2 linked regions of the Homo sapiens genome follow. The protein of the gene in region 2 interacts with the protein of the main gene of each other region in a biochemical or structural test. Each region holds a gene or a part of one and is shown on either strand. Other genes may lie near its edges.

Region 1 (3,653 bases), on a different chromosome or scaffold from region 2:
TTTTTGTTTGTTTTTCTTTGTTGTTTTTGAATATTATGTGTTCTTTTAAGCAGCTTTATATTGTTTCTAGAGTAAATTAGGTAAAACACCATTTGAGGATGCTTATAACATTTTCACTGGACAATTACACCCCTCTTTAGTGCAGTTTAAGATTTCAAAATAAGTAAGAAAGAATGTCACCAGATGCATATTTAAAAACGGATAGAGATATTAAGTAAGGATTTATTTCCACATATTTTATTTATATGCACAATCTCCAAGTATTCCAAGGCTCTGTAGAAATGGGGTGGGTTCAGCAGATGTAGAGATGGGTGGGTTTTGGGGTGGCTCATTGGACTGTTAAAAAGATAAGTCCTATATTGAGAGATCAGTAAATTAACATCAAAGTATACAGACACAAACATTTATAACACCCACACATGTAACACGCACACACACACACACGGCATTTGTGTGAGTAAAAATGTGGATATGTAAATAAGTTTTCTGAGAAGATGTGTGGAGAGTGTCTAGGATAAACTTTTATAAGTATGAGAAAATTCAATATTTGTAGACATTTTAGAGCATTGATAAGTTATTCTGTGACATTTACGATTTCTATGGAGCCCTGAAAAACCACATGTTCATCCTGCGCTAAGGTGAATATGATATGTTGTACACGTGGTTTGATGTTGTTTATGTGAAGAAGCTTCATGCACTATGACAATAACATGGATTACCATTCAGGAGACCTAGATTTTAGTGCCCACTAAATGCCCACGAACTCCAACTTTGTCAACTCATTTAACATCTTTATTGACTCACTTAACATATATTTGATAAATGACTTCATTTATAAAATAAGATAGTAAGACTAATCTCTAAGAGCTCTTCTAAAATGTCAACATATAGTGAATTTGTTTTTCAGAGCAGTATTTAAATCTATAGTCTTTATATCAGTTGTGTTGGCCAAAACATATAATGAAACCTGCTATCATTTACTATCACATTGATAGAAATATACTACTGGTCAAGTTATATTCACCATAACTAATCTCCAGATATGACAATCTAAGCCTTTAATATGTGTGTTATTCATAGCCTAACAATATTGGCATTAACAAGGGGCTTCATAGTATAAAAACATATCTTACGACACACAGCAACTTAAGAAACATATCCACTAAAATTCCTAGATGTCCGTCATTGTATAATTGTTGATAGAATGCTTTGTTTTTTCTTTTTTGTTTGTATTGTTTTCTGCTAGTTATTAAATTGCAGTGAATGACATTTGTGTAAAATATCTATAGTCCCAGCTTGAGCTCATTCAATCAACAGCAACAACATAAGCTAATGTAGACCGAGTTCTTTTGTGCCAGGTACTATTCTTATGCTGAACTTACCTCATTTCATTCCATCCCATCAACAGCCTTGTAAAGTAAGAAGAATGAAACTTGCTCAGCAAGAATGTAAAACCAGGCTGTCAAGCTCCAGGGCCCAAGCATTTAACCACCATTCCGTGCTGCCAACCTAGTGTCAATTTCATTTCCAGCACAAGTGATCCAATCTGAAAGCCACTTGCTTGGAGCAATGTGGCTTTCCTTCTTCAACACAAATTACCCCACAAGATAATGACATACAACACAATTTCTGTGAAGAGGGAAACAGGACAATTGGTAGGTACCTCTCTGTGGGGGACTATCAATGCTACTTTATAGCTATGAGAATGATTCTGGAACCCTAAAATTCTGATATGAATAAATAATTGAGAAGAGAGATTTCTCCCCACCAGGCTCCAAAGACACACTATCGTTACCCCCCAAGGGTAGAAGAAGAAGAAATAAAGTAGAAATCCTTACAGGAAAAAGCCTACAAAGCAATGAGTTCCTATTTCTTATTAAAGGCCTCAGAAGATACCTGGCACAGTGTAAGTGCTAAGTATTTATGAGATGGAGCGATGAATGATTGCTAAAGTACATCACATGAAAAATATTTGAGTTCTGGAAAAAAATGATGATATATTTCCTACCTTCAGCAAAATGTAATGTCTTACAAGCACTATGGAAAGGCACATATAAATTTAACACATATTCAGTGAAAAAGCAGAATGTGAATTGTATCTAAACTACAACTACACTTATATAAAAACGGTATGTGTATAGGTAAAAGACCTGGAACATGGCAACATGAGAAGTTTGATTTATTGGAATAAATTGGCCTGTGGCTTTTTCCTTTTATTTAAATGTTCACGTTCAAATGTCCTTTGATCCAACCACTTTGTAGCACTTACATTATTCCAGTATTATTGTTGGTATGTTGGTTTCCCTGCTCAATCCCTGAGCTCCGTGCTGGCTGAGACATCGGCTGCCTCATCTGCATGTTTTTAATACTTGGCACAGTGATAGAGTTCACCCATCATGGTGGTTAAAAACTTGTGTTCTGGAGTCAGACAAAGCTGGGTTCAGGTTGAGAGTTACTACTTAAGAGTAGCATAATCTAAGACAAATTGCTTAATCTCCATAAGCCTCAATTAGCTTATATGTCAAGTAAAGAAAATAATGGTACCTATTTCATAGGATTGTTTTAGTGATTAATAAGATAATTCAGTAAAAATCTATTTAAAACACATTTACTTTAATATCTAGCACATAGAGAGTGCCCCCAAGATGTTAGACATGCTACTGTTATTATTATGACTTTAAATTGTGAATTGAATTGGGTGGTATTGTTAGTGAAACAGGGAACCTTATTTTATATTACATTAATGGAATTGTAACTCACTTACTTCATGGTTATAGAAGTGTCCATTAATAGAGGCTCTATTTTTCTGTCTTTCTTTTCTGTCCATCATCAGAGGCTTCATCCTTTTTCTCACCAGAGCTGCTTCACTCATGGTTCTATAGAGCACTGGGGAGTCTGGTTCATCCTTTGCATGTGGCTTCAGGGTGTTGCTGTGATAAGATAAATAGTCTGGGAAGAATAGATTATAAGCTCATATCATTCAGCTGCCTGTGTCCTAGCATCCTGAGTGGATTTGTGTATGCTTTCATTAATTTTAGGAATATTGCTATTTTCTGGCTGTGTAAAAGCATTATAGTCCACTGCTTAGCTGCATATTTACTTATTAAATGTTGCCTGAGACTGACTCAGCAAATTCTGCCAGTATCTCATATAAAATTCTTATGTCTCATTCTTATGTTTCATAAGAAATGATCACAATGATCATGTTTGGGGTTTGGGCATTCCTTTAATCTTAATTTATTGGGGAGTGCATTTTGTGGCATTTCAGAGTGTTAGAGCTGGAATAAACCTGATACTTTATCAGGTTTGATCTCTTACAGGTAAGAAAAAGTACAGTGAGTTGAAGTGGCTTTCCTATGGACATAGTACTCATAAATGATAGAATCAGGTCTGGATCCTTATTTTTTTATTTTTATTTTTATTTTATTATTATTATACTTTAAGTTTTAGGGTAATGTGCACAATGTGCAGGTTAGTTACATATGTATACATGTGCCATGCTGGTGTGCTGCACCCATTAACTCGTCATTTAGCATTAGGTATATCTCCTAATGCTATCCCTCCCCCCTCCCCCCACCCCATTATATGTTGGCCCAAGTTCTTTGGAGCTTTTCCTAAAAAATAAACACTGGGCCTTAGTTTTCCTATAAAAC
Region 2 (3,753 bases):
GCTTGCAGCCCTAACGGATTGTCCATAGACTAATTTTTTGATAGAAGGAAGTTGCATAAGCAGTTCTTTACTGGGGACAATTAGTACAAGAGATTCTATTTTATGTAGGAGAACAACTGATAGAAAGTTGCTTTATTTATTTGCTTTTTTCCCTAGGGAAAGGTGCAGACCTGGGGAGGAAGAAATGCTGCCTGTAGTACATGGGGAGAAGGTTCAGTCATGCTTGCATTTCCCATTCATTTCTGGATGTGTGCTTCCTATGTCTTCCGCTTCTTTTGTTTATTGTTTACTAGGTGCTGTGAGGTCTGCTCTTTAATATGCTTTGCCCTTTGTTCTTCTGCCACAGGGTGTGAAGCCATCTATGTTGTTTGCCCTTTGCTCTTGGCTACCTCTAAATAGTCATTTGTAAAAGAAAGAGGAAAATCACATCTTGCCCATCAGCTTTGTGTACATCATTCGAAAATTTTATCTTTAATATACAAAGAAAGTACAATCCTTCTTTGTGTGGTTACAGAGGGGAATGGTCACACTATGCTCTGGAAAGACATCATCTGGAAAACCAATAGGTAATTATTTTAATGTAAATATAGTGAAAAGCATCTTTATGTTTTAGAGTTTTGCTAATGCTTTCAGTGACTGCAACAAATTAACATACCACTTTCTTGCAACAACTCTATTCACTCTTCAGTTTATTTAAATGCCATTAGTTTTAGACTGAAGTTGATCTGTGGAAAATATATGTGTATAATACCAATTCAAAAAAATATATAAATTGTTTTGTTTGTTAAATGTATTGGAAATATTTAAGGCTTAGTTTCCAAGTGAGAAAAGGCAATAAACTTTAACTTTAAAATCAAGAATGTTCTGTGTGTCTATCTTCAAAAATCTAAGATTATTTCCGTTATCTATCTAGCTTTCTATCTTCTGATGAGCATTCAACAACAGCTTTATCTTTTCAATTAGTGACACCGTCTTAAATCACAGCAGCTCTTAGAAACAAAACTGGCACAAATACCCTCGCCTCTCAATGGATTTACATACTATCTTGATGTTGAAAAAAGTTGTAGACATGGAAAACAGCACAGTACAAGGGTGATGCTTATTTTATCTGGGGTTTATTGCATGGGCAGAGGCTGTCATTTTCCCATAGTGTCTTCATTTATTATGCTAATTGACTTTCCAAGCTCAGACTGGAGGGTGTCTGCCCTGTGAACTATTCTCAGTTGGAGGGTTTTAAAAGCAAACCTGTTTTGTGCCTGAATGAAACAAAAAATCAATGTGTTTCTTTTCAAAGAGGGAGGGTCAATACCGTGGTTGTTTTTGTTCCCATCCAGTTATGTAACCGTGGGGACTTGTTTCTTTGCTTTCAGGATTTGTACGAAACACATTAAAGTTAAACAATAGCGGAGGCTTAGGAGTAACCCTCGAGCTGCGCCTTGGAGTGTGTGTCCCTGGGATTGGGAACCTCCTGTGAGTTCCATATCAAGTGCTGCTGTGTGTGTGTGTGTGTGTGTGTGTGCGTGTGTGTGTGTGTGTGCGCGCGCGCGCGTGTGTGTGATTAGCCAGTACGCAGTACTTCCCCAGGGTTGTGTTTCCTTTTTCCTGAGATTTGGCGAAGGGTAAAGGGTCGGAGTCACATGGATACAAAGCTTTTGATTAATGTCCAAGTCACTGCTGTGGCTGCCGAAGCCGCTTCCCCTCCAGCCCCGGCCGTGTGAGGCCAGAGCAGCGGGGCCGGGCGCGCAGGGCCTGGCCGGAGCCCCCACTCCCAGGAGTTTCCTCTGCAGAGCCCCGCGCCCCCCGCGCCGGGATTTCAGCCCGATCCCCTCCTCTCCCTGCGCCCAGCCTCTCCCCAGCATGTAAAGTCTTCTGTCTCTCCTCGGAGTTGGCGGAGGCGGCAACTTTCCATTCTCGCCGCCGGGGGCCGGGCAGCAGCGGGCGCGCGGGTCAGCGCTCAGCACGGCGGGCAGCGCCGCGCTGCGCACCGCCGCCGACCATGAGCGAGGACAGCCGCGGAGACAGCCGCGCCGAGAGCGCCAAGGACCTGGAGAAGCAGCTTCGCCTGCGCGTGTGCGTGCTCAGCGAGCTCCAGAAGACCGAGCGGGACTATGTGGGCACGCTGGAGTTCCTGGTGTCGGTGAGTGTCCCCGGCAGACGCAGGGGGACGTCCGGGCGGCGCGGGGCGCGGGTCCCGGAGTGGCTGCGGGAAGGACGCGCGGCATTGTCTGTGCGGGGACCCGGGACGGGTCGGGGCATCACAGGCGCGGGAATCCACGTGTGGACTCTGCGTTCGCGGGCGCGGTGACCCCCGCGGGGATTTGTTGGTGCCCCGAGACTCACTGAGTTGCGGGGGCCTTGGAGACCTCCAGGTCTGAAAAGTTAGCTCTAGAGAAGAGAGCTCCAGTCCAGGGAATCCCGGCTGCCCTATCTTCCCTCACTTTTCTTTTACCCGCCTCCCCAGTCTGCTCAAGTGCACTGTGTAATTGATTTTCCTTCTTGTTCTTTCCTGGAGACTTTGTTTTAAAGCTTTGGTTTTGTGATTAAAGGTCCAGTCGGCTACATCCAGGTACACTAAGTTAAAAAAAATCCTTGAATGTGCTCGAGCTTGAGTTCGTTACTCAGATAACATGGCAGTGGCCGCTTTAGTTATGGTCTTTGAGACAGAGGATTCTGGTGTAGGGGTACAGAGAGAGCAGCGGGGTGATGATCTCTAGCAGCTGTTGGATATTAAAGCCACATGTGGCGCTCACCCTGTCCTAGTCTTACAATTCCCTCCCCCCCGCCCCCCGCCCCGGCTTAAATCTGTCTTCTGCTCAGTTTCTGGTCCCCTGTTTACATGGCCCATGAGAGTGCTGTAATCAAGCTTCGGGACTTCGTGGAAGTGGGGATGTACTTATATTCCACGTTTCTGCTTGACTCACTGCCATCTGCTTTGAAAACGTCTCATTCATTTTAGGGCCGAAGGGGCAAAACTGAGTGAAAGTAACTGCTGAGATAACACTCAAAAGTTGAATTTTTCCTATTCATTGCTGAAAAGACAAAGAATTTGAGCCTTGGCTTCTTTCCACCCAGATTCCTGGGAGAGCATCATTCAAAGAACCAGGAGCTTTAGTTTTTGTGATCTCATCCAAATCCTTCTCCTTCCAACAACCAATTCCATGCCCCCTTGGTCTGAAGGAAAATATTTCAGGTGCCAAACTTCCTGCTTAGTGTTCTGAAATCTGTCAACTTTCTGCTTATAATCATGACAGATAAAATTCACTTCTTGGCTGTGGCAAGAAGGAAAGAAAAATGTCTCAAGTGATGTAAAATGTACAGGCTGCGTTATGGTTGACTTCTCAAAATCAATATACTTGACTTCCAGGGGCCACATTCTCTGCAAATATACAGGTATTTGAGAATATCCTGGTAACTGGTGGTTTATAGAATTATTATATACTTCCTTGTAACAAAGATTGTCAAAAAAGTATGTTTTTAAGATTTGATTTTTAATAGCTTTAAATTTGGCTTTCATGAAACTTTTTTGGTAACAAAGTTCTTTGTCTTTTGAAGAATCTGAGTCATTTCTTACATAATTACTCTTTCTGAAGATCTGTGAACAAAGTACTGTGCAGAATGCTAATTTGCAGAGACAGTTAATCTAATTATATTAAAAACCAATTTGTTGATCTTTATTTAAAATATCAGTTTTTCTTCTAATCTTAAACCTGATCATTACAACAGAAAACTTACTGTTAGTATATAGAGTTAGGT

What was found. Proteins that work in one complex are often made in the same cells at the same time.
Region 1: the proteins of PREX2 (region 2) and RASSF6 interact in a test that uses a peptide from one of them, tested with the Homo sapiens proteins (one large-scale study listed by IntAct).

What each region holds. Positions count from the first base shown.
Region 1 is NC_000004.12:73,582,416-73,586,068, forward strand, and holds part of RASSF6 (ras association domain-containing protein 6), read right to left. Parts: intron 2,950-3,653; coding exon 2,765-2,949; intron 2,419-2,764; coding exon of another isoform or gene 2,404-2,418; exon of another isoform or gene 191-2,403; intron 1-190.
Region 2 is NC_000008.11:67,950,399-67,954,151, forward strand, and holds the start of PREX2 (phosphatidylinositol 3,4,5-trisphosphate-dependent Rac exchanger 2 protein), read left to right. Parts: upstream 1-1,647; 5' UTR 1,648-1,996; coding exon 1,997-2,137; intron 2,138-3,753. UniProt on the Homo sapiens protein: Functions as a RAC1 guanine nucleotide exchange factor (GEF), activating Rac proteins by exchanging bound GDP for free GTP.